Linked DNA regions of Homo sapiens. The protein of the gene in region 1 purifies or fractionates together with the protein of each later gene. This does not show direct contact. Each region holds a gene or a part of one and is shown in the gene's direction. Other genes may lie near its edges.

Region 1 (4,077 bases):
AGGGCAGCCGGCGGGAGGAACGCTCACTGTCAGCGCCTGGAAACTTGCTCACGTGAGTGGCCGCCTGCCTTCTTGGGTGGGGGAGTGGTGGCTGGAGGCTAGGCTTGGGGCAGCCCTGCCCAGACCACTCTGCACAGGTCCTCCCTGAAGTGGTGCCATCTGGAGAGACTCAGATGAAACCCACCTGGTGCACTGGGACAGTCAGCACCCCAACCTGGGCTCAGCCCACCTCCTTTTGCTGACAGCTAATCCACCTGAAGTTTACCTTTCTCGGGAACTTGCACTGTAGCTGGGGGGCTCTTGGTCAGTCAGAAGAAAAGCACTTTTGTGGCCCGGGACCGTGAGTGCCTGATGGGGAGGTTTGAGGCTCTGTGCTGGGCGAGCAGTGTGGTCTCACTCAGGACCCTGTGTGTCCATGCAGAGAGGTGTCCACTCATCTGCTGTCAACGCCACCCTGGCTCCAGCTCTATGAAGCTGGTGTTTGGGGTCTGAGTGTCTCAGGGTGGGGGAACGGGCATCCCGTGGATCCCAAGGGTCCCTTCTCACTTCCCTTTTCCCTCCCTCTGGTGATTCCAGCAAAAAACCAACCAGGGAATGTGAGTCCCTGTCTGAGCTCAAGGTAACGCCCGCCTGCCTGTGCCGTAGCCTCTGCTGGGGCCTGAGGGGGGCGGGTGGGCAGCTGCAGAGCACGGGGGCATCCCCACCCGGGCAGATGCTCCTTCCAGCCTGGGCTGCTGTGGCCCGGCTCACCGCGGGCCTCCAGACCCAGTATTAGAATGAGGGGCCTCGGGGGCTTGGACCCAATGGTGGGTCATGCATGTGGGCTGGGGCTGCGGGTGCATGGCGCTCCAGCTGGAATGCCTGAGAATGCACCCAGGTCTGAAGATCCTGTGTGGCACCCATGTCTTCTCAGTGCACGTCAATGGTGTTGAAGCTCTGTCACAGGGCCCATGGGTGCCCCCCCGAGTCCGCATGGTCAGCACATAGGTCAGGCATGCTGCACTGTGTGGCTCTTCGCTAGGGGCTCTCCAGCCTCCACTTCTCTTTCTTTGATGTGTTTAGACCTAGAAAATAAGTCCCCTTCCTGCCTGTTGCAAAGTAACGTAAGAGTTCCCTCACCCGAGTGGATGCAGACCTTCTTGCTGTCAGCCACCCTTCCTTCATACACATAGCCAGCCCAGGTGACCAGAACCTCCCAGGACAGATGAGGCTTTGTGTCCTTATGAGACTGGGAGAACCTGCTGGGCACCCCTGCTGCAGGTGCTGTGGTGGGTGGGGACCCCACTGCCCTTCCCACTGAGCACATCATGGCTACCTGACTTGGTGGGAGCTCCAGGCAGTCACTTCTGTTTCTTAAACATAGCTTTACTGAGGTACAATTCACATACCATGTAATTCACCCACGGGAAGTGTATGATTCAGTGGTTTCTAATACAGACTTCTGCAGCCATTACCACCGTCAACTTTACGACATTTTCATCAGCCCAAGAAGACACCCTACACTCCTTAGCTGTCCCCATCCAACTCCCCCACCCCAGTAACCACTCAGAATAGGTATGGATTTGCCTATTCTGGACGTTTCGTATAAATGGCGTCATACACTACGTGGCCTTCTGTGTCTGGCTTCTTTCTCTCAGCATCATGTTTTCAAGGTTCATCCATGCTCTACATGTATTAGTGCTTCATTCCTTTTCATGGCCAAATAAGATTCCATTGTTTGGATGCACCTCACTTTGTTCATCCATTCCTCTGTGGATGGACTTGTCTCCACCTTTTGGCTATCGAATGAAGACTGATGCTATGAACATTTGTGTACAAAGTGTTAGGAGTTGGCTTACGAGATGAAATGGATTGACTAGCAGGCTGGATGCAGTGGCTCACGCCTGTAATCCCAGCACTTTGGGAGGCCGAGGCAGGTGGATCATGAGGTCAGGAGTTTGAGACCAGCCTGGCCAATATGGTGAAACCCCGTCTCTACTAAAAATACAAATATTAGCCGGGCATGGTGGCGCACACTTGTAGTCCCAGCTACTCGGGAGGTGAGGCAGGAGAATCACTTGAACCCAGGAGGTGGAGGTTGCGGTGAGCTGAGATCACGTCATTGCACTCCAGCCTGGGCAACAAGAGCAAAAATCTGTCTCAAAAAAAAAGGCTGGGCGCGGTGGCTCACGCCTGTAATCCCAGCGCTTTGGGAGGCCAAGGCAGGCGAATGACGAGGTCAGGAGATCGAGACCATCCTGGCTAACACAGTGAAACCCCGTCTCTACTAAAAATACAAAAAATTAGCCGGGCGCGGTGGCGGGCGCCTGTAGTCCCAGCTACTCGGGAGGCTGAGGCAGGAGAATGGCGTGAACCCGGGAGGCGGAGCTTGCAGTGAGCCGAGATTGCGCCACAGCACTCCAGCCTGGGCGACAGAGCGAGACTCCGTCTCAAAAAAAAAAGAAAAGAAAAAGAAATGGATTGGCCACCCATCCCGTGGGAGTCAGGGCTTATATGGTAATCTAGGAGGAACACCTGTTTGGGAATTATTTATGCTTTTGAGAGAAACCTTGCCCTCCAGCATAGAGCAGGGAAAATGGCAGTCCTTCAGAACCGGTCTTCAGCAGTCTCAGAAGGCAGACACAGTCCCCAGCTTGTGCCCAGACAGACGCCTGGGCAGCCCCGCCTTGGGTGTGAGCCTCACGGATGATGGAGTGGAAACCCAGCGGGCTGGCCTTTCCTCGGCCTTCCTCCTCTCAATCTCCATTTTAGGGTTTGCCAAACCGGGGCTGCCTCCTGTCTCTGAGCAAGTCTGCTGTTGGTTTCTTTCCTATTTTCTTTCTTTCTTTCTTTCTTTCTTTTTTTTTTTTGAGACAGGGTCTTGCACTGTTGCCCAGGTTGGAGTGTTGGAGTGTAGTGGTGTGATCTCGGCTCACTGCAACCTCTGCCTCCTAGGCTCAAGCGATTCTCCTGCCTCAGCTTCCTGAGTAGCTGGGTTTACAGACATGTGCCACCATGCCCAGCTAATTTTTGTATTTTTTTAGTAGAGATGGGGGTTTCACCATGTTGGCCAGGCTGGTCTTGAACTCCTGACCTCGGGTGATCTGCCTGCCTCAGCCTCCCAAAGTACTGGGATTACAGGCATGAGCCACTGTGCCCGGCCTTCGTTTCAATGAGATCAAAATTGCAAGACACCAGCAGATGGAGACTGGCCCCAAAGGGCTATGCTGCCCCTTCCTTTCTTCACCTGGGATCCCCTGCCCTCAGCCCCCAGCAGGTAGGATGCCTTGGTCATGGGAGCTCACAGAGCTGATTCAGGCACTGGGGGTCTTGGACTGGGGGCCTGCCTGCCGTCTGCAGTAAGACCCAACCCCTACCAACAGGCAACTGCGAGGGCAGAGACTGAGGGCCTGACCTAACGTCTAGTTACAGCGCCCCCCTCCCCAGGGACCTTACCCACATTCTCCATCAGAAACATAGCAAGCCAGACATCACGCTTCCTTTCCCTTGTGTAAGGACAGTCTCCCTCCTGGACAGGAGACACGGATTGTTGTGGGGGAAGGACAGACAGTAACCCATGTGGCATGCCCAGTGACCTCCCTAAGAACAGGGGAGCTGTGTGATGGTGGTGAGGGGATAGGCTCGGGGATTCCCCTCGCACCTGTCACGCCATCCACGCTGTCACACCGGCGGCTCCAGCCTGGGCTCTTCAGGGAAACAAGGGCTCTCCTCCTCCCACTTCCAAGAGGGAAGGGGCCTCCTCTTCTGTCTGAGGTGCTCCTCCCTCAGGGCTGGCTGCAGGAGGGCTGAGGCGGGAGGATCCCTGGAGCAGTTGTCATCTGCCCTTTCTTGAGGGCCAGCTGTGTGCCAGGCCAGGCAGGGGAGGCTCTGATCACCCCCACACACAAGGAACTCAACATCTGGTGACTGAGGACAAGCGTCACAGTCCCTTCCCTGTAAGGGCTCATAGCCTAAGTGGGGGATCGAAGTACCTAAAAACCTGGTATGACAGGCGCCGTGGGGTGGGGGGTGCCTTCTACTTGGGATTTGTGCAGTGAATTTTGGTGTTACATAGTTTTGGAACTGTTGTACGGGTCC
Region 2 (4,539 bases), on another chromosome or scaffold:
GCAGCTCTGCGCGCTCCTTTGGCCTCCTCACGCCAGCTTACAGCTGCCGTGTCTTCAAACTCTGTGCAGCCCTTCCTGCGCGCCTAGCTGCGGGGTTCAGCTCTGCGTGATCGCCGGCTGGCAAGAGACTGCGCCGGGGAAGGTGCGCGCCGCAGCTTCCAGCGCGCTCCTGGACGCTCTTGCCTGGGCGGCGGGAGCCCGCACAGTCGGAGCCGCAGCCGTAGGCGTCTTCCCGGAAACCTCCACACGCTCCACCGCGCCGCCCCAGGAGTTTCGGCCGAGGTGCCACACCCGGCGGGTGTTCGGCTGGGGGGCGTTGCAGGGGAAATGGTCTCTACGCGCGCTCTTTGGGAGGCACAAGTGCACCTGTGGACACAACTCTGGCGCCGGCAAGTCTCCTTGATGCGCACAGACATCCAGGCTGCCGCCTGCGCTGCTTAGAGGAGGCTTGCAGACACCGGCAACCGGAGTGGGGATTAATACACTCTGTTTCCCTTCTCCGCTCGGCATTCAGTATTTAAAATGCTCCGGGAGAGCTCTAGCTGAGCGCAGGTACTTAAGAAAGAAATGCTCTTTCCAGACTCTCAATGGAAACTCGGAAGCGTGCGCGCGCGCGCGTCTGTGTGTATCCTGGGTGGGGTCCGATCGAGTCAAGGTTGCTTGTGGTGTGACACCCAATTATTCCTTGCAACTCCTCAACTTTGTGGATGAAAGTGCGACTTTCCCAGGCCTATTGCCGCGGGCATTGCCTTTACAAAACCACAAACACAGAACAAGCCTCCTAAGGCTTTTAATTTTCGGGGCGTTTGGGGAGGCCAGTTACCTGCCGGCGTCTTCTAAATGGTCCAGACTCGGTTCGGGCCGCGGAGACTCCGGGATTCCGGGAGCGGGCAACCCCGAGCCCTGGAGGAAGAAATAGGTCTGCGGAGGTGGCACAGATCTGACCCGGCCCAGCCCGGCCCAGCCCGGCCCACCCAGGCCCAGTGGAACCAAGCAGCGAAACCTCGGATTTCACTGCCGAGGCTTCCTAGCCGAGGCTTTCTGGAGCTTGGCGTTTGATAAATATAGCCTGGCGTTTGCCCCTGAATTAGACTCCGTTTCCTTATTTAGCCCTTGCACAATGATTTTAGATGATGTCACTTAGAGCTAAACGAGAAAATTGATCTCAGATTTGCTTGGCCTCTAAAGCCTGGTTAAGCAGATTGAGAATTAGAAAGGCAGAGGAAGCAAAAGGGGGGTGGGGATGGGGGGGTGCGGAGGGTAGTGAAGTGTGCGCGGCAGAGTGTGTGCGCAGAGGGGAGGGCGCGCCAAGCGGGTGAAAGCGCCCCCGCCTTTTCTGGGCGGGGAACCTCACTCACCAATGAAAAGTAGTTACTGACTGCAGATGAAAAAAAAAAAAGTTTTCCTGTTGACTGTTGGAAGCGAATTGAGCAATTATCTAGTTTACCTTCTCCTCTTGGAAGTTAACGATTGGCGAGATCTTGGCTGCGTTATTGACACAACACTTTCTATTGATAGAAATAAGTAGTGATTGTCCCCGAGTCATTGGTGCGCCAAGAACTCTGCGATGGGCTGGCAGGAGTCCATTGGGCTGGGCAGGCAGGTTCGGCTGGTGATGCTGGGGAGGAGGAGGAGGAGGAGGCTACTGGTGGTGATGGTGCCCGTCCCCCTCTCCGCAGGTCTGTGACAAGCAGGGAACAAGGCAACGGACGGCGCAACCCAGCCCCGGCTGACGGACGCTGGCGACTCAGACATGGACAGTAGCTGCCACAACGCGACTACCAAAATGTTAGCGACTGCTCCAGCTCGGGGCAACATGATGAGCACGTCCAAACCCTTGGCTTTCTCCATTGAACGAATCATGGCGCGCACCCCAGAGCCCAAGGCCCTGCCAGTCCCCCACTTCCTGCAGGGAGCCTTACCCAAGGGGGAACCCAAGCACTCTCTGCATCTCAACTCGTCGATCCCCTGCATGATCCCCTTCGTGCCTGTGGCCTACGACACGAGCCCCAAGGCAGGAGTGACGGGCTCCGAGCCGCGGAAGGCCAGTCTGGAGGCCCCGGCGGCGCCCGCGGCGGTGCCCTCGGCTCCCGCATTCAGCTGCAGCGACCTGCTCAACTGCGCACTGAGTCTCAAGGGCGACCTGGCCCGCGACGCGCTGCCGCTGCAGCAGTACAAGCTGGTAAGGCCGCGTGTGGTCAACCACTCTTCATTCCACGCCATGGGCGCCTTGTGCTACCTGAACCGAGGTGACGGCCCATGCCACCCGGCAGCCGGCGTGAACATCCACCCGGTGGCCTCCTACTTCCTCAGTTCCCCTTTGCACCCGCAGCCAAAAACGTATTTAGCCGAAAGGAATAAACTGGTGGTCCCGGCGGTGGAGAAATACCCTTCTGGAGTAGCTTTCAAAGACCTGTCCCAGGCTCAGCTGCAGCATTACATGAAAGAAAGCGCCCAGCTTCTGTCGGAAAAAATCGCGTTCAAAACCTCGGATTTCAGCCGAGGCTCTCCTAATGCCAAGCCCAAAGTTTTCACTTGCGAAGTGTGTGGAAAGGCAAGTACAATGCAAAACGGAGATCCTTTCCTTCCCTCCCTTCCTTCCTTCCTTCCTTCCCTCCCTCCCTCCCTCCTTCCCTCCTTCCTTCCCTCCCTCCTTCCTTCCTTCCTTCCTTCCTTCCTTCCTTCCTTCCTTCCTTCCTTCCTTCCTTCCTTCCTTCCCTCCCTCGCTCCTCCTTTCCTTCCTCCCTTTTTAGTATTTTGGGGGTAATTATTTGCATACACTTTTTGTTAAGATTCTCTTCCTCCTACCCTCTCTCTGCCCGGTTTGATTTCAAAGTTACTTGTGCGGCTAACCTGTTCTACGTGTGTTTAATTTTAAGGTCTTTAATGCGCACTATAACTTAACCCGTCACATGCCAGTGCACACAGGAGCCAGACCCTTCGTTTGCAAAGTGTGCGGAAAAGGTTTCAGGCAAGCAAGCACCCTGTGCAGGCACAAGATCATTCACACGCAGGTGTGTTCATCTGTCTCAATTTCACCTAGTTTGCTTCCGAACTGTTTGCAGAAAAACAGCCGATAAAACCTTACTCTTTAGGATAACGTTCATTTAAAAAGTGCTAGCTAAACAGGGTGAATGCCATGTATTGTTTGCTTTTGTTCTGCTTGAAAGTGTTTAAGCATTACTGTGTTTTGAGCTTGCAGAACTTCACATAATTAGAAAATATCTAAATGTCTCTGCTTTTCCTTTCTCCTGCTTAGGAAAAACCTCACAAATGTAACCAGTGTGGCAAAGCATTTAATAGAAGTTCCACTTTAAACACTCATACCCGAATACACGCGGGCTACAAACCGTTTGTGTGTGAATTCTGTGGCAAAGGGTTTCATCAAAAAGGTATGCAAACCAGGAAATGTCTCTCATGGTTAGTCTTATGAAAAGCCATACTTAATACTTTCGGGATGTTTTAGAAGACGATGTTTAAAGTGTAGTTATGTGGCACTTTTGTTGCCATTCTAACTCCCTACTCGAAGTCTGATTAGTATTAGAGAAAAGCATGATTCATAAAACAAGGGTATATGTTTTAACTGCATGCTCTCATTGTATGTAATTGGACTGATAAATGTGTATTAAAATTTAAGGAAACGGCATCACTGTTGATGCGATGCTTGAAAATAAACTTGGGGAGACAAGTGCAGGCACAGATAGTAGCCCTGCACTTGTTGTGGGACCTGTGGCGGCTCTTCTGCTTGCCTGGCGCTACCTTCCACGTGTCTGCTCCTCCCTTTTTAAGCTATTTTTTTTTTCAGAACCATATTCCTGTCATTTGTGTGTTTCAGGGAATTACAAAAACCACAAGTTGACCCACAGCGGGGAGAAGCAGTTCAAGTGCAATATCTGCAACAAGGCTTTCCACCAGGTTTACAACCTCACCTTCCACATGCACACCCACAACGACAAGAAGCCTTTCACCTGCCCCACGTGCGGCAAGGGTTTCTGCAGGAACTTTGACCTCAAGAAGCATGTCCGCAAGCTGCACGACAGCAGCCTGGGGCTGGCCCGCACGCCAGCTGGCGAACCAGGCACTGAACCGCCGCCCCCGCTACCGCAGCAGCCGCCGATGACGCTGCCTCCTCTGCAGCCGCCGCTGCCAACCCCGGGGCCCCTGCAGCCCGGGCTCCACCAGGGCCACCAGTGATCGAGGCTAAGGGTCCTCCCAGCCTCAGCCGTGCCCCCACGCTGAGGCAGCGGCAGACTAGAGCTCCTGGTCCGAGTTCGTCTGCAGACCCCAGGGCATGTTGGGCCCCACACTTCAGGGCCGACCAGAAGCCTCTGCATCCCCTGGCCTTTCGCCTCTTGCATGCACCTGCTAAATGGTTTTGTGTATTATATTCTATATAGGCACTAACAATTATGAAAAATTTGGAGGGTTTTGCTTGTTTTCTGTTTTTCTTTTTCTTTTTTTTTAATTTGGAAAGACTTTTCATCTTGGGTGGAGAGATGGTGTTTATTTTGTTTTGTTTTGTTTAAACAAATTTCTGCT
Region 3 (4,077 bases), on another chromosome or scaffold:
TACAATGGGTTTATTGGACATAATCCCATCCTAATTAAGGAACATCTGTAGTCTACAAAGAGATACTTGCCAGTGTTCATTTAGCTCTGCTGTACTTTAAATAAAAGATATGTGTATCTTTAGTTCAAAGCTGGTGCCTTGGAACGGTGTCAAACATGAGAAGAATGTTCCAACAGCAAGATGGAATCATTGTCTTGCAGTGTTGAAATTAGACCGGTGGTGGCCAGGCGCAGTGGCTCACGCCTGTAATCCCAGCACTTTGGGAGGCCGAGGCGGGAGGATCATGAGGTCAGGAGATTGAGACCATCCTGGCTAACACAGTGAAACCCCGTCTCTACTAAAAAAAATACAAAAAATTAGCCAGGCGTGGTGGCGGGCGCTTGTAGTCCCAGCTACTCAGGAGGCTGAGGCAGGAGAATGGCATGAGCCGGGAGGCAGAGCTTGCAGTGAGCCGAGATCGCGCTACTGCACTCCAGCCTGGTGGGCGACAGAGTGAGACTCCGTCTCAAAAAAAAAAAAAAAAAAAAAGAAAAGAAATTAGACCGGTGGTGTTTTCATCCTTTTTCCTTGAGAATAAGTTTTCTGGATTTTAGTCTATATATTGAATAAAGCCTACAGGTCAAAGAATAGTAGGGACTTCTGAAGATTCAGGAGTGGCTTTAGAGAGGTAGCAGGGACATCATGATGTTTTTCAGCTCTTTAAAAAGATAGGAGTGGGCCGGATGCTGTGGCTCACGCCTGTAATCCCAGCACTTTGGGAGGCCGAGGTGGGTGGATCACTTGAGGTCAGGAGATCGAGACCAGCCTGGCTAACACAGTGAAACCCTGTCTCTACTAAAAATACAAAAATTAGCCGGGCATGGTGGCAGATGTCTGTAATCCCAGCTACTCGGGAGGATGAGGCAGGAGAATTTCTTGAACCCGGAAGGTGGAGGTTGCAGGGAGCCAAGATCATGCCACTGCACTTCAGCCTGGGCAACAGAGTGAGACTCCATCACAAAAGAATAAAAAAAAGGCATGGACCTTAATTCATCCTAATTCAGTTTTTGTAATCATGTGCAGAAACAAGTAACATATATATAAAAAGGCAGGAGAGAATGTAAACTTGGACTTTATTTATTCACAGTCACCAAGCAGTTTGGTTGATAATGTCTCTGAAAGCATGGACAAGTGAAATATGTAAGAGCAGAGCTCTTGGGGGCCAGGTGCAGTGGCTCATGCCTGTAATCCCAGCCTTCGGGAGGCTAAGGCAGGTGGATTGCTTGAGCCTAGGAGTTTGAGACCAGCTTGACAACATGATTAGACCTCATCTCTACAAAAAATACAAGAATTAGCTGGGTGTGGTGGCACATGCCTGTAGTCTCAGCTGCTCAGGAGGCTGAGACCGGAGAATTGATTGAGCCTGGGAGTTTGAGGCTGCAGTAAGCTGTGATTACACCACTGTACTCCAGCCTGGGTGACAAAATGAGTCCCGGTCTCAAAAAAAAAAAAGAAAAAAAAACAGGAGCAGAGCTCTTGGACAAAGCCCTGCTGTGGAAAGCTTGCTTCATCTGGCTGCAGCCGCTCCACAACGCCCGTCATCTTGCTCAGGAAGCCACAGCACTACTCTAGGAAAGGGGCAGAGAGGGGCCTGGGTCTCCCACAGCTGAGAATCCTTTAAACAGTGCCTGTAGGGCCCTCTATTGTGGATTTGGTAGTTCTGCCTGCACCGAGGGAGATGCTTGCAGGTGCTTCTGAACCCTGTGTTTGGGAATTAGCTGCGCATACAATTAAGGCTTTTGGGTATAGTAAAATTTGTGTGCCTTTGACCCTGTGGTTCTGAGTCCTCGATGTTAATGACAGAGCGGACATTGCAGCCCTTCTGTCTGCCAGCCAGCACCTCATTGGAAGTGTTTCATTGAAACGTCACACCCATATGCTGAGGCTGTCCTGTTGTTATCCCATTTTATGGATGAGGGAACATTCACACTTAGAAGTTAAGTGAGTGGCCCAGGAAACTACAGTTTACCAGTACCCAAGCTGGGCTTTAAATTCTGACTGCCCCCTGCCTCCCCAAGGGGATTGTGCACAGCACAGAAGTTCACACACGATGCTTTTTAGTATCAGCTTAGGTGGAGATCTGTGTTTATGTAGAATGCTGAGGAAACCACAGGCATAGTATGATTTCACGTACGAACCTGTGCATAAAGACTTCTGGAAAGAGTCATTGCTGGGCAACGAGGCTTCACGTGATTTGTGTATTTTTGTAGTCTTCAGAATTTTTTATGATTAGCATATGTCATTCTTATTGAAGTGTGGGGTTGTTATCAAAAAGTAAATTTAGATGTGGGAGAAATTCATATGTGATTGATTTTCAAAAGATTGCTGTAAAGTTGCTGGTGAAGGATGAGTGATCAGACACCATCAGAGCTGGAGAGGCAGCAGATGGGAATTGTGTGTTCCCAGTTCCCTGAAGAGCAGCTGGAGAGAGATGCCTCTGGTGCCGCCCCAGAATACGCAATGGGCATCTCGCCACATGGGTGTTTGGGCTGGTGCATTGCTGCTGGCTGGCGCCTTCTTTTCAGGAACATTGTGGGACATGGGTATCCTCAGCCACAGTTCTGTGGACAGGAAGACCCTGGGCCTCTCTAGTTTCTTTCTTTCTTTTTTTTCTTTTTCTTTTCTTTTTCTTTTTTTTTTTTTTTTGAGATGGAGTTTCACTCTTGTCACCCAGGCTGGAGTGCAGTGGCACAATCTCAGCTCACTGCAACCTCCACCTTCTGGGTTCAAGTGATTCTCTTGGCTCAGTCTCCCTAGTAGCTGGGATTACAGGCGCCCGCCACCACGCCTGGCTAATTGTTGTACTTTTAGTAGAGACGGAGTTTCACCATGTTGACCAGGCTGGTCTCAAACTCCTGGCCTCAGGTGATCTGCCCACCTCGGCCTCCCAGAGTGCTGGGATCACAGGCATGAGCCACTGTGCCTGGCCTAGTTTCTTAATTGAAGTAAAACAGAGTAAGATGGCATGCAGGGCTAATCATTAGCCCAGCAGGTAAGCACCATGGCTCTGCAGCCAGCTGCCTCCTTAGAAAGTGGGGTGTTGCCCCATGGAAGTGGTGGCATGCTCTTCTGGTAGCATTGTTGAAATGAAAACAGGTTCAGTCCTTGATCACTAGGCTTTTTGTACCCGGGTACCTCTGGGGACTTGGCAGAGAGTTTGATCTCTCAGTGTCCAGGGGTTAACTTTCTACCTGAGAGTAGCACCCCATGCTTCTCCAGCACCTGCTCCTAACCAGGAAATTGGGGTAGACCAGAACCCCAGTCTTCCCAGCAGCTCAGTGTTTCTTGCCCCGGAGCATCTGCCTTCATCACAGTGACTCTGAACACGCTGCCATGGTGACATCTGGTAAACCTTAGGATGGCCATGGAAAACGACTCTTTGCCCTGTTTCTTCTTGGCTTCCCTTGCGTACAAGGATGAAGGAGGTGGTTTAACTTTATTTTTGTCCTTTACTTTTTAAGTCTAAAGTAAGTGCTTGAATCGGGTGGGTTTTCATTTTTTTGCTTTCTCACCCCTCAGGTTGGCCCCTAACTTGGCCTCTCACCCTCGTGTCAGCTGTTAGACACTGACTCAGTGGCTCAGAATATGAAAGGCTCAGGAAGTAGCATGCTGGCCCCACCTCCCTGTCCCCATACCTTAGCAGAGCAGCTGCCCAGCAGGGCCTCCTTCTCTTTCCTAAGAGTTTACTCCATCCATGGTGGGTGTCTTGGTAGGCCCGAGATACGAGAGGGAGTGCTGCTGTTACAAGAATTTACAGTTGTTCTCTTCAGCACAGAAATGCTGTAAATGGCCTCTTTCGATACTAGTTTATGAAATTATAAGTGTCTGATGATTGTGCATCTTTGGTTTCAACAGCTACTCTGACCTACGACACTCTCCGGTTTGCTGAGTTTGAAGATTTTCCTGAGACCTCAGAGCCCGTTTGGATACTGGGTAGAAAATACAGCATTTTCACAGGTATCGGCCATGCTGGAGCCCACCCTGGTCTGACCGCTTGGCCTGCAGAAGCATTTTGTGATCACTGTTCTCTGCTAACTC
Region 4 (4,077 bases), on another chromosome or scaffold:
TGTTTCAGTGACCTCCCGTCCTCAAGAGGTGTGTGTGACTTGACAATAAAAAAATAAGTGTCCTAAAAGAATTTACTGGCTGGGTGCGGTGGCTCACACTGGTAATCCCAACGCTTTGGGAGGCCGAGGTGGGTGGATCATTTAAGGTCAGGAGTTTGAGACCAGCCTGGCCAACATGGTGAAACCCCATCTCTACTAAAAATACAGAAATTAGCCGGGCATGGTGGCACATGCCTGTAATCCCAGCTACTTGGGAGGCTGAGGCAGGAGAATCGCTTGAACCCAGGAGGCGGAGGTTGCAGTGAGCCAAGATTGTGCCACTGCACTCCAACCTGGGAGATAGAGCGAGACTCCATCTCCAGAAATAAATAAATAAATAAATAAATAAATAAGGATTTACCACCAGAGAAAAGTACCTGGTCATATTTACTACAATCATCATATCATACTCAGTGTATGACTATATTAGTAAAAATGCACTTAACTACTAACCATTGATGTTTTAGGCTTTAGTGTATGAACATCCTGGACAAGAATTAGAGATTGAGCTCTTTGATGAAGACCCAGACAAGGATGACTTTTTAGGAAGGTAAATAAAGCCCATTGTGGTTATTGGAGGAGGGCATGGGGTCAGTCTTTTTGTTTAATAATCAAAAGTATGTTTTAAAATACATTTGTATACTTGTTGTCTATTCATTAAATGGTTCTTAGATATAACAATTGTTTCACCTTGGATTTCTTAAAACATTTTTATTCCTAAAAGTTTCACATTTAAGAGAAGTGAGTCTTCTAGATCTGTGCTGTCTATTACAGCAGGCACTAGCCTTAAGTTAATTAAAGTTAAATAAATTAAAAACTATCTGAGTGGCACTCTCTTTGTTTACAAGGCTTAAAGCTACATGCAGAACCTGCCGCCGTATTGAGTTCTAGTGGACAGTTCTATTCCAGATTGCAAAAATGGGTTTTTTAAGTTTTTTGAGTTGCTGGATTAATTTTTGTCAGGATATAGTAATTCACATTGGGAAAATAAATACTGGTTTGTTCACTTCAATTGAACAACTAGTATAGCTTTAAAAATAAACTTTTAAAATGGTTATTGTTTGACCACCATTTGTTAATATCAATTATTTCTGATTAATTTAACCTAATTAAGTTATTTGACTGAATTAAATTGTGGCAAAAAAGATGTAGGGATAGAATACATTGGAGAGGTTCATACCTCATCAAGAATGGCCCTTGCACGTTGTGGCCTGACTTGAGAGTTCATGAGACTTCCCAGGACAACTAGGAACAATTGAGAGATTTTAAGCCAGACAGGATAGATCAGGTGCTCATTCTAGGAAAATCACTGTGTGGATTGGATTGTCGGGGGCTGAGCTTAGAGACTGGCAGACCAAATAGGAGAGTGTGTCATAGACCAGGACAGAGAGAAGGCGGTGTAGACATAGATTGTGGGGGGCAGAAGAGGCTACAAGAAGAAGTGGGAGTATAATCATCCCATCTAGTTGTATCTGGCGTCTGGGGGTGGTGCCAATCTTGGAAGTACGGGAGGTTTAGGGGAACGGGAATGGGCCTCCTCTCAGATGCACCGAGTGAGGGCGTCCATCGGGCTCAATGCAGCATGGGTCTAGAGCCTGGGAGCAAGGGTGGGGGAACGTGAGGTTAGCGTTCACTGTGCGAGTGAGGAATCCACAGTAACGCACAACCCTACTGGAGTTGTGAGTGAACGTATAAAATAAGACGTTCCAAGAGGACGTGTAAAATAAGAGGGTTGAGATGCTTTCAAACATTTTTTGATGCATGTAACATTGTAGGGAAGATGAGTTGTTTTTGTTTTTGTTTTACAGCTCTAACCTCAGCTGGGCCAAACTCAGTATTCTGAGCTCACAGAAACTCCACCTCACTCTTCCTTACTCTCCTGACACTGGGGGTGAGCTGGAGGAAGCTTGTGGAAAAATAGTCTGTTCCTTGATAAATTATTAGCGTTTTGTTGCATTTCTGGAGTGCTTGTTCATAGACAAATGCTTAAGGTTGTTTCAGGAAGAAATGTGTTTTCTATGTTTTAAAGTTGTTTCAGTAAGAAATGTGTTTCTATGTTCTAAAGTTGTCGTATTGTTATTTTTATAGTCTTATGATTGACCTCATTGAAGTTGAAAAGGAGCGCCTTTTAGATGAAGTAAGTTTCCCTGGAGTGTGGGTCTGTTTACAATTGTTGACTGAGTCCCTGCCCTGTGCCAGAGGAGCCACGAACCACCCCTTCACCATCACACAGTGCCGGAATCCTAATTAGTATGGCATGAACAACATTTACTTAACATATACTAAGAATTTAGGCCTTTTAGAAATAGCAAATGAAAAATAAATTTAAGAGTCCATTCAGGTGCGTGTTGAGTCCCTACCATATGCTGGGAATCCTTACGGATATGAAGCATAAACTGACGTTATTGCAGACAAATATGCGATCCCCTGCAGGAGTAAGGGCAGGGCTGTGCGAGATGCCCCCTAGTGATGGAGATTTTCAGGTGTTTGGAGGGAATGGTGGAGAAGGCACAGTGCGGCCAGTGAGGCATCTCACGTGAGAGATGCCTGTAGAGACAGTGGGAACTCATGGCAAGGAGACTCGACTTCCACCATTTTATTGCTATCAGAATAAAAAGTATCAAAAAGGAAACATTTGTGGTGGCTTCTAAAAGAAGGGTAAGATTTAGATAAATGAAGCAAAATTAAACAAAAGTGTTGAATTCTGCTGCTTTCGTAATCACACGTTTCCTTCCCTTGAGTGTTCAGCATTCATTGGCTGTGACATCTCGTTTTCCTGGGTGTGCCAGGCACTGGATGGACAGTCCTGCCCATGGCTTCTATCATTTAGCATTTGAGGAGCATCTTTGATTAATTATTTTGTGACTTTTAAGCTGATACAACTGTATACTATTTTATTAGTATAGAGTGATGAATTAGAACAAACAGATTAAATCGTTTGATACTGAAATTCAGTATTTGGAATCAATGTTGTATTACCTCTTACCCTGTACATTCCGTTAAAGGCCATTTGGTGGAGCATGCTTGCCTACACCTGTGGTCCCAGCTGCTGGGGAGGCTGAGGCAGGAGGATCGCTTGAGCCCAGCCTGGGCAACACAGCAAGACCCCTATCTCAAAAAAAAGAAGTCTATTCATAGAAGACTTTACTGTCTCTAGGTAGTGCTAGAAAACATTTGAATTCTTATGTGTAAAGTGGGAATGATACTAGTACTTGCTTAGGGTTTCTGTCGGGGTCACGGGGTTGGTGTGTGTAAAGCACTTAGAATGGTCGCTCACACCTGTTGCTGCCATCGCCTCCAAACGTGAGGTCACTGGCATCCACATAGCGTAGAGCTGGATATGGTGAGGCTCAGCCTTCGCGTTACTGAGAACTGTTGATGCCTCGTGGTTAGTGAGCAGCATGGAACATTTGTAGAGACTGGGTTTAATTTGGATTTTTGATTCAGAAGAACTTTTGCTGAACGTAAACATTTTTTCTCTTCAGTGGTTCACTCTGGACGAGGTTCCCAAGGGGAAGCTACACTTGAGACTGGAGTGGCTCACGTTAATGCCAAATGCGTCAAACCTCGACAAGGTGCTGTTGAAGCATGTGCTCTTGAAAACTACCTAACCAACTACTCCTCATAACTGAGCTTGGTCTCTCAGTTGTGTTGCTACTTGATTTTTTAACAATTATAGCAGTAATTTTCATTATTGTGTAATAAGTCACTACAGTAGCATCAGGGATAAATTAAAGATAATGGAGTTTTTAAAATGAAATTTATAGGTCCTTCATACCTGTTTTATCAGATCTTCAGTTTTGAGCTTGTTAAAGTGCAGGGATTTGTAGAGCCAGAAATCACCTGAGTGCTTCATTTAATTGACTTATATATGGAATAGTAGTCTTGTTATTTAAAAGGCATTTATTGTTTTAGTTCTGTCTCTGTTGCATGGATTGGATGGTTTCTCACCTTTCTTATTTTTAGCGTAATCAACATGATACAATCAGATAGAAATAGTATCTAATCCTGTGGAAACATGGCTGCTAAGGGCTTTTT
Region 5 (2,946 bases), on another chromosome or scaffold:
ATTCCTTTATTTTAGTGGCATTTCAAGAGTGTTGAAAACATATGTTAGATCTGGCATGTTTAAATAGAAATCCTTCTGAGCCCTACTTTGGGGTCAAGGGAGCCGGCCCATTTATAGAGCTCTTATGATGTGGTAGGCAGCGGCAGTACTTAACCCTAGAGCAGCAGAAAGGGATCCGAATAATTTAGAGAGCTCCATAAAAATTCAGAAAAATAATCTGTAAGAAGGTTCTGTAAATACTTTGATAAAATATTGATTCAGTATGAGATATTAGACTAAAAGTATTTAGAGAAAGGCCAAAGTAGATTTTTGCCCCCTTTAAATGCTCAATAAATAACTTTCAGAAGTGATTAGAGGGAATAAAATGCACATTTATTACAGGGTGTGAAAGCTGTTTTGGCCGAAAGTTATGAAAAAATACACAAAGATCATTTGATTGGAATTGGCATAGCTCCACTTCAGTTCCTTCCAGGAGAAAATGCAGATTCCTTGGGCCTCTCCGGTAGAGAAACATTTTCTTTAACATTTCCTGAAGAACTGTCTCCTGGAATTACATTGAATATACAGGTATCTCTAAATTTTTCAAATATATGATTATGCACTCAAATGTTTATGAATTATTGAATAAGAATCAATTGCTGTAAATTATATACTAATGTCACTTAATGAATGTTAAGTTGCCATTTAAGATGACTCTCTCTTCCATACTTAGATCTAGCTATGTTAATAGTTCATGTTCTCTGAGGAAAAGTGGAAAGAACTGGGTGCTTATACCAGAAAAAAAGAACACATGAAGGGGAATCTTGACTTCCACTTAACAAGTGTCAGCTTTCTTTTCATGGTGGTCATTTTTTTGCTGTCCTGATCTAATTTTAACCGAGGCATACATACCACTCCAAAGAGAGCAAAGTTGAGCGTTCAAAGTTAGAGCAAAACAGACTTTACAACTAAGAAAAAAGGGGAAAGAGTAGGAGTTACTGATTACATGCAATCAATATTTGGTGTAAAATGAATGTGAGTAGTGAGTATAACTTCCCCAATTAATAAGTCAAAATCTAAATGCAGCTATTTTTCTACTTAACTATGAAGCCCATGGTCAGGTATCTCAGGTGTTTTTCAAGCAGCAGCAAAGTTTCAGGCAATCAGAATATAAGAAATTAGAACCAAGATAAATCAGACAGAATCTGTGGCAAGTATAGTCATTAAATATGAAGACAAATGGTCTTAACCATCAAGTAGCACCTGGAAGATTTACTTGCTCACATGAGATGTTTTTGCTCCTTTCAAGACAAGCACTGGAAAAGTATTCAGCGTGATTGCTTCGTTTGAAGATGATGTGGAAATAACATTATACAAACATGGAGGATTATTAAACTTTGTGGCACGAAAATTCTCATAGTATCTACTTACCATAGATACCTTTCATAACTGGTAACTGCAAAGCCTTTTGTGCTGGACCCAGGAATCCTTACCATGGAGCAGCAGATAGTCCCAGTATACTCACTTATCTCATCCATGGATGTAAATGATGATGAATCAACATAGTAACTGAAATGAAATCTTCTTGATTTTAAATAATATACGAATGGTGCTATTAATATTGCTAAAATCAACGTGTGAAGTGTGTTGTGGAAGAGACCTGTAAGTATGGGGGGGGGGCGATATTTTATCAGACCATTTTGTAAATAAAGGCAGAATTTGTGTTGAAGATTCTTATATGAATAACCTTCCTGGATTTGTTTAGTTTTGCACCAATAAAACTGTGTACTACTGTTTGTTGGTTTAAGAGTAGCAGATTGAAATATAAGAAGCCAGATTAGACTCTAAAATTGTGGCCATTGGAATCTCATTTATAAATGGACCTTTTAAGTATATTAATTCCTCTTCAGAATTGAGCTGGACACATTTGGCATTCTTAGTTTGTCATATAACCAGGTTTATCCTTAGTCTAACTGCAAGGGATGGAACCTGCCCCAGGTCACAATCATTCTGTCCAATCCAGCCAAGGTTCCCTCCACATATGAAGATGGACCATGGCAGGATACAACTGATTGTGTGGCACCATGTATTAGCAGTGGGAATATGTATCACATATGATGCAGCCTTTCATATTTCAGCAGTTTGCCACTGTGACTGTCTGGCAAGCCCCCAGATGGCGTTATATTAATTGGATTAGATTATTTTGCTCACCTTATGTAATACTGTAACTTCCTATAACCTAATATTTTCGGTATCATTAACCAAAATTTCACACTCATAGTTGCTAAAGAGAATGTTATTCAATCATTAAACTCTGAACTGATTTCTTCTATACATTTAAATTATCCACCCTCAATAATACGGGTGCTCAACCCTATGCATTTTTTAAGTGTTGCTATTTCTTAATTAAATTGATTTCCTGTCATTTTGAATCATTTATCACCTGCGATGCATGATTCTATTAATTTTGTTATGTTACTGTTTTAACCAAAGCTGACCGTAAGGATAAAACACTTAAGTTGTTGCTGAGTACTATATATCCTCAATATGCATGTCTGCCCATCACATCAAATGTTCTGTCAACAAGATGTTTGGTAATTTTTTTTAAAAAGGTTGGAAAATTAATTATAGAAGGTTCTATACTGTTTTTTTAATTAAGAAACTAAGTCTAGCAGGCTAAAGGTTAATTGTAGTGATTTTTTTTCACATAGATATCTTTCTATGACCTAGTTAGTTACTGCAATTCAGAATTAGTTCACATTGCATAAAGAATTACTTGTTGTAAGCAAAATGCTGAAACTACCAAACCAGTGGATGAAGACCACTAAGAACTTTGCACATAATCATACAATCTTTTGAAAATATTTTGCAAATATGTGTTTAGACAATAAGATGGACTAGAGTTCGACAAAATGATTTCTTTATTTAAATTTTGTATAAGTATTTTCTTCGACACTTTCAAATTAT
Region 6 (4,077 bases), about 57 Mb from region 1:
GGGGACCCTTTTATTGCAAAGACATTTCCAGAGTCGTCATCTTTTTCTTTCTTTTTGAGACAGTCTTGCTCTGTCACCCAGGCTGGAGTGCAATGGCACAATCTCTGCTCACTGTAACCTCCACCTCCCGGGTTCAAGCAATTCTCCGGGTTCAAGCAGTTCTCCGGCCTCAGCCTCCCAAGTAGTTAGGATTACAGGTGCCCACCACCATGCCTAATTTTTGTATTTTTAGTAGAGACGGGGTCACCACATTGGCCAGGCTGGTCTTGAACTCCTGACCTCAAGTTATCCACTGGCCTCGGCCTCCCAAAGTGCTGGGATTACAGGCGTGAGCCACCACACCTGTCCAGAACCAGGGGCTTTTCTGTGACCAAGGTAACCCCATATCAATTACCCTAGCCCATAGTGTCCTTGGACCTTACTGCTAGGCACTGGCTTTCAGTGTTGCTTTGTACTTCCCTGTCGTCTCCTAATGCCATTAGGCCTGGATAGGGCACCTGCCCTTTAACTTCACAGGTAGATTCCCATCAGAACTACTTTGAAGGCCAAAATGAGCTGGGTGAGAGAGCTGCTTTTTCTCCTGCTCTCCTTTCTTGTGTCCTCATTCTTCCCCACGATTTTTTTGATGTGTTCCATAATCTCCTTATTCATCTTGATTTCTATATCCACCAGGACCTGCTCTTCATAATATAAATAGAATTGTAGGAAGGGTAATGGTATTGTGTTCTTAAACATCATGATCTGCATCCAAGGGTTTTTTGTTTGTTTGAGATGGAGTCTTGCTCTAGTCTTGCTCTGTCACCCAGGCTAGAGTGCAGTGGCGCGATCTCGGCTCATTGCAACCTCTGCCTCCCGGGTTCAAGCGATTCTCCTGCCTCAGCCTCCCGAGTAGCTGGGATTACAGGCACCCGCCACTGCACCTAGCTAATTTTTGTATTTTTAGTAGAGACAGGGTTTCACCATCTTGGCCAGGCTAGTCTTGAACTCCTGACCTCGTGATCCACCCACCTCGGCTTCCCAAAGTGCTGGGATTACAGGCGTGAGCCACCGTGCCCGATCCAAGGGTTTTTTTTGTTTTTGGATTTGAGGTATGTTGAAAAATACAAATTTCCTGCCACTGTCACCCAGCTCCCCATGTGTGTTATAATTCACTCTTATGACCTTCACCAAGTCCCTGAACACTACTACATCACCCTGGTCTGGGTATTGCAGAAGGGTAAGGGCCCCTTCATAGGTGGTGGCAGTCAAACACCAAAGAGAGGTAAGAGAACAGCAGACATCACTTCTCGGCAGATTGCTTTGGGTAGCAAAGACATTTTAACAATATTAAGTCTTCAGTCCATGAACACAGCTTTCAATGGTGTTTTTTTGTTTTTTATTTTTATTTTGAGACAGGGTCATCCACTGTCGCCCAGGCTAGTGTGCAGTGGTGCGATCTTGGCTCACCGCAACCTCTGCCTCCCGGGTTTAAGCAATTCTTCCACCTCAACCTCCCAAGTAGCTGGGACTACAGGCGCATGCCACCACACCTGGCTAGTTTTTGTATTTTTGGCAGAGATGGGGTTCCACCATGTTGGCTAGGCTGGTCTTGAACTCCAGACCTCAAGTGATCCGGCCACTTTGACCTCCCAAAGTGCTGGGATTACAGGCATGAGCCACTGTGCCCAGCCTCAATGGTGTTTTTTTGAAGTTTTTATAATGCTGTTTTTTTCAAAAATAAAGATTTCACATGAGTTTAAAAAATGAATTTAACTCATTTTTAATGAATTTGTGATCTCTTATTTCACAGTATACCACCTTTAGAGATATTAATGACTTTCTTGGTTATCATTTGATATGTAAATAAACTCATATTTTAATGAAAATAATAAATTACTATTCTTGTGATCTTAGTGCTCATCAAAAGTAGAACTTAGACCATTCAGTTTACAGCTAATCTTCCAGATTGCTAAATGAAATAAAATTATTTTTCTATTTAGTAATTCATTATGAAAGATAAGGAACCTCAGTTTTCCCTTTTTCATATGCCTTATGTCTGACAACACATTTTGCACAATATTCTCTATTAGAATTTTCTTTTCTTTTGGTCTAGCTCTGTTTGGTTATCCCTCTTACTAGATGTGAGCAGCCGTAGCAATGTAGTTTTTGTCCCATTCACTCCTCTCAGGCATGAATCCACCTTGTCTAGGAGAGCTATGTTCTCAAAAGTGAAAGCAGCCTGTTTGACAAGTACTGACATTTGAAAATGCTATAAACCTCTTGTGGTGAGATACTGTTTGAATTAATCTTGATAAGTTAAATACCATGAATTTGAAGCAACCTTAAATTCCTTTGACAGATAAATGGATAAACAAAATATGGTATATACATACAATAGAATATTAAGCCTGATTTATAAAATAATCCTGTCATATGCTATAATGTGGATGAACCTAGAGGACATTATGCTAAATGAAATAAGGCAGTTATTAAAAGACAATGCTCTATGATTCCATTTGTTTGAGATATCTAAAGTAGACTCACCAAAGCAGAAAGTGGTGGTTGCCAGGGGCTGGAGTAGGGGAAAATGGGGAGTTCTTCAGTTAAGAGGCAAAAAGCAAGCTTGTTTTGCAAGATGCAAAAGTTCTAGAAACCTGTTGTACAACAGTGTGCATGTAGTTAATGCTTACTGTACTGTACATGTAAAAGTGGTTAAGGTGATAAGTTTTAAGTGTTTTTAACTACAGCTTTTTTAAAAAAAGAGCTGGGCACAGTGACTTATGCCTGTAATTCCAGCTTCTTGGGAGGCTGAGGTGGGAGTGTCCCTTGAGCCTAGGAGTTGGAGGCTACAGTGAGCTATGATCACACCACTGTACTCCAGCCTAGATGACAGAGCAAGACCATCTCTTAAAAAAAAAAAAAAAATTAAAAAAAAAAAACTGGATACGAATTACAATGGATTTAATACAAATACATTTGTTCTTTTTCTCCCTCTTTTCCCCACCCCCCAGGAGTTTTGTCAAGCGCTTCAGCAGCCTGATGCTAAAGTTTTTAAAAATTACTTAAAGGTAGGTATTTGTGAAGCTCACGTATCTTCATACAATTAGGTAATGTTTGAGAGCCAAGAGAGAATACATACCTGCAATTATAGATGTTTATGTGAAGTCCCTTTTAACTAAGCTCTTGAAAAAGAGTATAAGTTAGGTAAGCACACTGAATGTGTACACCTTTGAGTATATTGGTGAGAAAATGCCAGTTTTCTTTTACAGTTTCATGATGTAATTAAATAGAAACTAGAGGGATTAGGAGAATAAGAAATGTTCAAGAACAGTTGTCCAAATTAAGTTGAAAAGAAGGGGCTAAAAATATAAAAACAGAAGGATGAGATATTTGCTTATATCCTATTTTGAAACATTTGAACTGTAAAACAGACAAAAAGGAGAATCCTCAGATTTGGGCCATCAAGCCTCCTTTTACATTTACGAAATTACTGATTTTTTTTTTTAACTCTGTAAATCAACAAAAAGTGTCACGTGTTTATTTGGTATTCATAGTTATAATTGAGTTCATGAGATGAAACTGTCTTGGTCTTACCTAGGTAGTCATTCATTTCATACATAATGACTGCTTTTTATGTACCAAGTACTACAGTAATGGCTGCAAATACAACTATGAGTAATTTTCCCTCCCCATAAGGAGCTCATGATCTAGAAATAAAGTTACAGTGTGACAAGGTGAATTATTTTTTATTATCTTCACTCAAATAATTTGAAGACAAAGCACTGTATTAAATTCAGTAGCAGGTAACTTAGTGTATCACCTGGTTCTTTTAGCAAAGACATTCAGTAGAATTTGTAAGTCAGAGGGCTTTGCGCAGTAAATAATTTAAGTGTGCCATCCTTTGACTGTGGTTCTAACATCTTCCCTTGTCAGTTTTTTCTTAGTTGTAGTTTGTCAGCTTAAACATCTCAGAGTTTTTGTGGAAGAATATTGAGGGCTTGTTTTTGTTTATCATTGGGAACCCTCCCCTTCGCCATCCTCCCATAAAAAAGCAAAGTGCCTACAGGAGTAACCCCTGTTAAATAACTGATCAGTCAA
Region 7 (4,077 bases), 1.1 Mb from region 1:
CAGCCAAAAACATTTTTTTTATGACTTGGGATATCATTTTTCCCAATCTGTGTTCCGTGGAAGTCAGCACCATGGTAGTAGGTGATTGGCCAATAAAGGATTCCAAGATCAAATAAGTTGGGAGAGGTTTTTTTTTTTTTTTTTTCTTTGGTGAGACAGAGTCTCCCTCTGTCACCCAGGCTGGAGTGCTGTGGCGCGACCTCTGCTCACTGCAACCTCCGCCTCCCGGGTTCAAGTGATTCTCCTGCCTCAGCCTCCCAAGTAGCTGGGATTACAGGCACCTGCTACCACGCCCAGCTAATATTTGTATTTTTAGTAGAGATGGGGTTTCACCATGTTGGCCAGTCTGGTCTTGAACTCCTGATCTCAGGTTATCCGCCTGCCTTGGCCTCCCAAAGTGCTGGGATTACAGGCGTCAGCCACCATGCCCAGCCTAGAGGTCATGTTTTTGATGTCCTCTTGGAATATTCGCAACAAGGTGTTTTCACTTTATTAAGCTTCCTTGGATTCAGTGTTTTCTTTGAACCTCTTTTTTGCTGAAAATCTGTTGAGGGTCTGGGGAACACATTTTGGGAAATGCTGAGCATATCTGATTATCCTGATCTGCACCATAACCAAGGGATAGCTCTATGACTTATTAGAGTAAGACCATTTTGCCTTCACTCAATAAATTCTAGTTTTTTGTTTTTTTTTTTTTTCATTTCTTTTGGTATGTTTGTTTTTACCGTATAGCATTGGCTCTCAAAGTGTGGTCCCTGGACAGGCAGCATCAGCATCATCTTGGAACTTGTTAGAGATAAAAATTCTCAGCTCCATTGGAGCAACTCAAATCGGAAATCCTGGAGGTGCTGTAGCCCCAGCTACTTGGGAGGTTGAGAGGTGGGAGGATCGCTTGAGCCCAGGAGGTTGAGGCTGCAGTGGTCCATGATTGTGCTACTGCTTTCCAGCCTGGGTGACAGAGTGAGACCCTGTGTCAAAAAAAAAAGTTTGGGCACAGAACCCAGCATTTGTGTTTTAACGAGTCCTTTAGGTGATTCCTATGTTTACTAAAGTTTGAAAACCATGGCCATGGCTGGGCTTGGTGGCTCACACCTGGAATCCCAGCACTTTAGGAGGCCGAGGAGGATGGATCACCTGAGGTCAGGAGTTCAAGACCAGCCTGGCCAACATGGTGAAACCCCGTGTCAACTAAAAATACAAAAAAATTAGCTGGGTGTGGTGGTGGGCACCTGTAATCCCAGCTACTTTGGGAGGCAGAGGCAGGAGAATCGCTTGAACCTGGGAGGCGGAGGTTGCAGTGAGCTGAGATTGCGCCATTGCACTCCAGCCTGGGTAACAAGAACGAAACTCTGTCTCAAAAAAAAAAAAAAAAGAAAATCATGGCCATATAGATTGGGTCTCCCTTTCTGTCCACTTTTACTTCCTATTTCTACCACTTCACCCAACTTCTCATTTGCTGCTTCTGACCTGCTTATGCCTAGTAAGATACCCAAGCTTGTAAACTTGCTATTTGTGAGCGTCTCAGAGAGTCTCTTGTGTGTTAATGCTTCAATGTATGAGTTTTATGGCATCCTCGACGGTTTTTCTGGTCACTTTCCCAGCAGAGCCCTCTAGTTAGAAAAGGCAGCCATGTGATACCGATCTTTCCAGTCACAGGCCTCTAGTGCAGCAGTCAGTGATGAAGGGCTCAGATGGGCTGTGCCACTTACAGGCTGTGTGACCTGCTTCAAGTTACTTCACCTCTCTGAGCCTGTTTCTTTGCTTTGAACATGGAGATAGCAGTAGTACTTCCCTGATAGGTTGGAGTAAATGTAACGCATTGTCTGGGTATGGTAAGCTCACAGTGTGTGTTAGCTGTTATTGTCATTGTCTTAGCCACAACCTGTTTCTGGCCCCAGTCATTCTTTTTCCCCAGTTACTGAAATAGCCCCAAATCACATGGACCAATGCAGTGGTCAGGGCCCTGGGGAAACTGCGTCCCTGTACCTCATTCATTTCTCTTCCATCATTCAGGTGCCTGAAGTGTGAGGAATGGTATGGGCCTCCTGCTCTCAGGTTCTTCCTACACCCAGTATAAGTCTGTCTTACACTGCAGGTTAAATTTCCTCCTCCTCAGAAGCTCCTCCCTTTTGTTTGCGTGCTTCACTGTGTCATGCAGCACTTGTCACAGGTTGGCTTTCCAACATTATTGAGCACTCTTTTTTTTTTTTTGAGATGGAGTCTCGCTCTGTCTCCTGGGCTGGAGTGCAGTGGCGCCATCTCTGCTCACTGCAACCTCCACTTTCTGGGTTCAAGCGATTCTCTTTGCAGCCTCAATCTCCCAGGCTTAGGTGATCCTCCCACCTTAGCCTCCTGAGTAACTGGGATTACAGACACGTGCCACCATGCCCAGGTAATTTTTGTATTTTTAGGAGAGACGGGGTTTCACCGTGTTGGCCAGGCTGGTCTTGAACTCCTGACCTGACCTCAAGTTATCCTCCCACCTTGGCCTCCCAAAGTGCTGGGATTACAGGCGTGAGCCACTGCCCCCAGCCATATTGAGCACTCTTGTTCAACCAAGAGTTGAACTCTTTCTGCCCAGAGTTAGAGTGTATCTGTTTCACTCCAGAGTTAGGGTGTATCTGTTTCACTCTGACTGGCTGGCTTGGTTTCCCATTACTTGGTTTCTTCATTTAAAAATGGGCTTAATCCGGGTGCGATGGCTCACGCCTGTAATCCTAGCACTTTGGGAGGCTGAGGCAGGTGGATCACAAGGTCACAAGTTTGAGACCAGCATGGCCAACGTGGTGAAACCCTGTCTCTACTAAAAATACAAAAATTAACTGGGCGTGGTGGTGCGCACCTTTAGTCTCAGCTACTCATGTGGCTGAGGCAGGAGAATCACTTGAACCTGGGAGGCGGAGGTTGCGGTGAGCCGAGATCGCACTACTGCACTCCAGCCGGGGCGATAGAGTGAGACTCCGTCTGAAAAATAAAAGGCGGGGGGGCCTTAATAACACTGCCCACCTTACATGGATTAAATGAGTGAATGTGTATGAATGATCTAGAGCAGGGTCTGGCATCTTGTAAGCACTAAGAGCTAGGGTGTTATTAGTCCTCTCTTCTTCTTCATGTGTTCTGAATAGGTATTATGCCTTCTTAACCCTGCACTCTACATGTATCTCCCTCTCTTTCCATTTTTCCAGAGCCTACTAATCTGATAGGCCAAGCTTATGTGTCCTTCAGACTTTCAGAAACACTCCAGTTATAGGTGTTCTTCCCTTTTCTGGTCCCTCATAGTACTTCAGTGTTGCACTGTTTTTTAAACCGTTTATTAGAATGTATGTGAAGAAAGGTACGCCTCCTAATGGAACAGCTCACTGAATCATCACATGTTAAACACCAGTATAACCAGCACCCAGATCAAGAAGTAGAACCATTCCAGCACTCCTGAACCTCCTCTTGATGGCATGTGAGGTTTCGAGGCCACTTTTATTTTCTTAGTTTCGTTCATTTAGCAAATGTCTACCCAAAGCTTTTCTGTACCAGGCATTTTCCTAGAGTCCTGTTTTGTTGTTGCTTTTTCCTCTTGGGGAGGAAGGTCTTAAATATATGGGGAGTGTCCAGTGGGCTGAGATCATGTCTGGGCAGAATACCTGACTCCAGCGGCTTACCAAGTGATTTTTATTGACCGCTGTCTGTGTAATCTCTGGTTTCAGATCTTCCAGAGGGAGCAGTGAAGGGGCTCTGCAAATTGTTCTGCTTGACTCTGCATCGATATAGGTGAGTCCCAGCCAAAGGCCCCATATGTGGAGCACTTTGTACAGAGAGGGGATTTAGAGTAGTGGTTAGAGCCCAGATTAGAGCCAGACTGCCTGGTGCCAAATCTGGGCTATGTCACATCCTAGCCATTAGATCCTGGGCAAGTTACTTAACCTCTCTGTGCCTCAGTTTCCTTGTCTGCAGAATGGGGATGGTGCCATTCTCTATCTCATGGGTGGTTGTTAGTAAGCGTGAGGTGCCTGGAACAGTTGCCTGCTGTGCCATAGTGGTCAATGTGTTTATGCTGCCATTTAGTCATGTGTGTTAAATCGTCTG

What was found.
Region 2: the proteins of CAMKK2 (region 1) and FEZF1 purify together in Homo sapiens (affinity purification with mass spectrometry; one large-scale study listed by BioGRID and IntAct). This does not show direct contact.
Region 3: the proteins of CAMKK2 (region 1) and ATG4B purify together in Homo sapiens (affinity purification with mass spectrometry; one large-scale study listed by BioGRID and IntAct). This does not show direct contact.
Region 4: the proteins of CAMKK2 (region 1) and ESYT2 purify together in Homo sapiens (affinity purification with mass spectrometry; one large-scale study listed by BioGRID and IntAct). This does not show direct contact.
Region 5: the proteins of CAMKK2 (region 1) and IREB2 purify together in Homo sapiens (affinity purification with mass spectrometry; one large-scale study listed by BioGRID and IntAct). This does not show direct contact.
Region 6: the proteins of CAMKK2 (region 1) and XPOT purify together in Homo sapiens (affinity purification with mass spectrometry; one large-scale study listed by BioGRID and IntAct). This does not show direct contact.
Region 7: the proteins of CAMKK2 (region 1) and GCN1 purify together in Homo sapiens (affinity purification with mass spectrometry; one large-scale study listed by BioGRID and IntAct). This does not show direct contact.

The regions. Positions count from the first base shown.
Region 1 is NC_000012.12:121,241,115-121,245,191, reverse strand, and holds part of CAMKK2 (calcium/calmodulin-dependent protein kinase kinase 2), read left to right. Parts: coding exon 1-52; intron 53-576; coding exon 577-619; intron 620-1,062; coding exon of another isoform or gene 1,063-1,068; exon of another isoform or gene 1,069-1,604; intron 1,605-4,077. UniProt on the Homo sapiens protein: Calcium/calmodulin-dependent protein kinase belonging to a proposed calcium-triggered signaling cascade involved in a number of cellular processes. Isoform 1, isoform 2 and isoform 3 phosphorylate CAMK1 and CAMK4. Isoform 3 phosphorylates CAMK1D.
Region 2 is NC_000007.14:122,301,652-122,306,190, reverse strand, and holds the start of FEZF1 (fez family zinc finger protein 1), read left to right. Parts: upstream 1-1,440; 5' UTR 1,441-1,753; coding exon 1,754-2,554; intron 2,555-2,879; coding exon 2,880-3,014; intron 3,015-3,259; coding exon 3,260-3,392; intron 3,393-3,835; coding exon 3,836-4,194; 3' UTR 4,195-4,539. UniProt on the Homo sapiens protein: Transcription repressor. Involved in the axonal projection and proper termination of olfactory sensory neurons (OSN). Plays a role in rostro-caudal patterning of the diencephalon and in prethalamic formation.
Region 3 is NC_000002.12:241,647,116-241,651,192, forward strand, and holds part of ATG4B (cysteine protease ATG4B), read left to right. Parts: intron 1-3,894; coding exon 3,895-3,996; intron 3,997-4,077. UniProt on the Homo sapiens protein: Cysteine protease that plays a key role in autophagy by mediating both proteolytic activation and delipidation of ATG8 family proteins. Required for canonical autophagy (macroautophagy), non-canonical autophagy as well as for mitophagy.
Region 4 is NC_000007.14:158,759,595-158,763,671, reverse strand, and holds part of ESYT2 (extended synaptotagmin-2), read left to right. Parts: intron 1-506; coding exon 507-589; intron 590-2,127; coding exon 2,128-2,176; intron 2,177-3,524; coding exon 3,525-3,614; intron 3,615-4,077. UniProt on the Homo sapiens protein: Tethers the endoplasmic reticulum to the cell membrane and promotes the formation of appositions between the endoplasmic reticulum and the cell membrane. Binds glycerophospholipids in a barrel-like domain and may play a role in cellular lipid transport.
Region 5 is NC_000015.10:78,496,745-78,499,690, forward strand, and holds part of IREB2 (iron-responsive element-binding protein 2), read left to right. Parts: intron 1-381; coding exon 382-567; intron 568-1,288; coding exon 1,289-1,399; 3' UTR 1,400-2,946. UniProt on the Homo sapiens protein: RNA-binding protein that binds to iron-responsive elements (IRES), which are stem-loop structures found in the 5'-UTR of ferritin, and delta aminolevulinic acid synthase mRNAs, and in the 3'-UTR of transferrin receptor mRNA.
Region 6 is NC_000012.12:64,442,085-64,446,161, forward strand, and holds part of XPOT (exportin-T), read left to right. Parts: intron 1-2,990; coding exon 2,991-3,047; intron 3,048-4,077. UniProt on the Homo sapiens protein: Mediates the nuclear export of aminoacylated tRNAs. In the nucleus binds to tRNA and to the GTPase Ran in its active GTP-bound form. Docking of this trimeric complex to the nuclear pore complex (NPC) is mediated through binding to nucleoporins.
Region 7 is NC_000012.12:120,184,509-120,188,585, reverse strand, and holds part of GCN1 (stalled ribosome sensor GCN1), read left to right. Parts: intron 1-3,698; coding exon 3,699-3,762; intron 3,763-4,077. UniProt on the Homo sapiens protein: Ribosome collision sensor that plays a key role in the RNF14-RNF25 translation quality control pathway, a pathway that takes place when a ribosome has stalled during translation, and which promotes ubiquitination and degradation of translation factors on stalled ribosomes.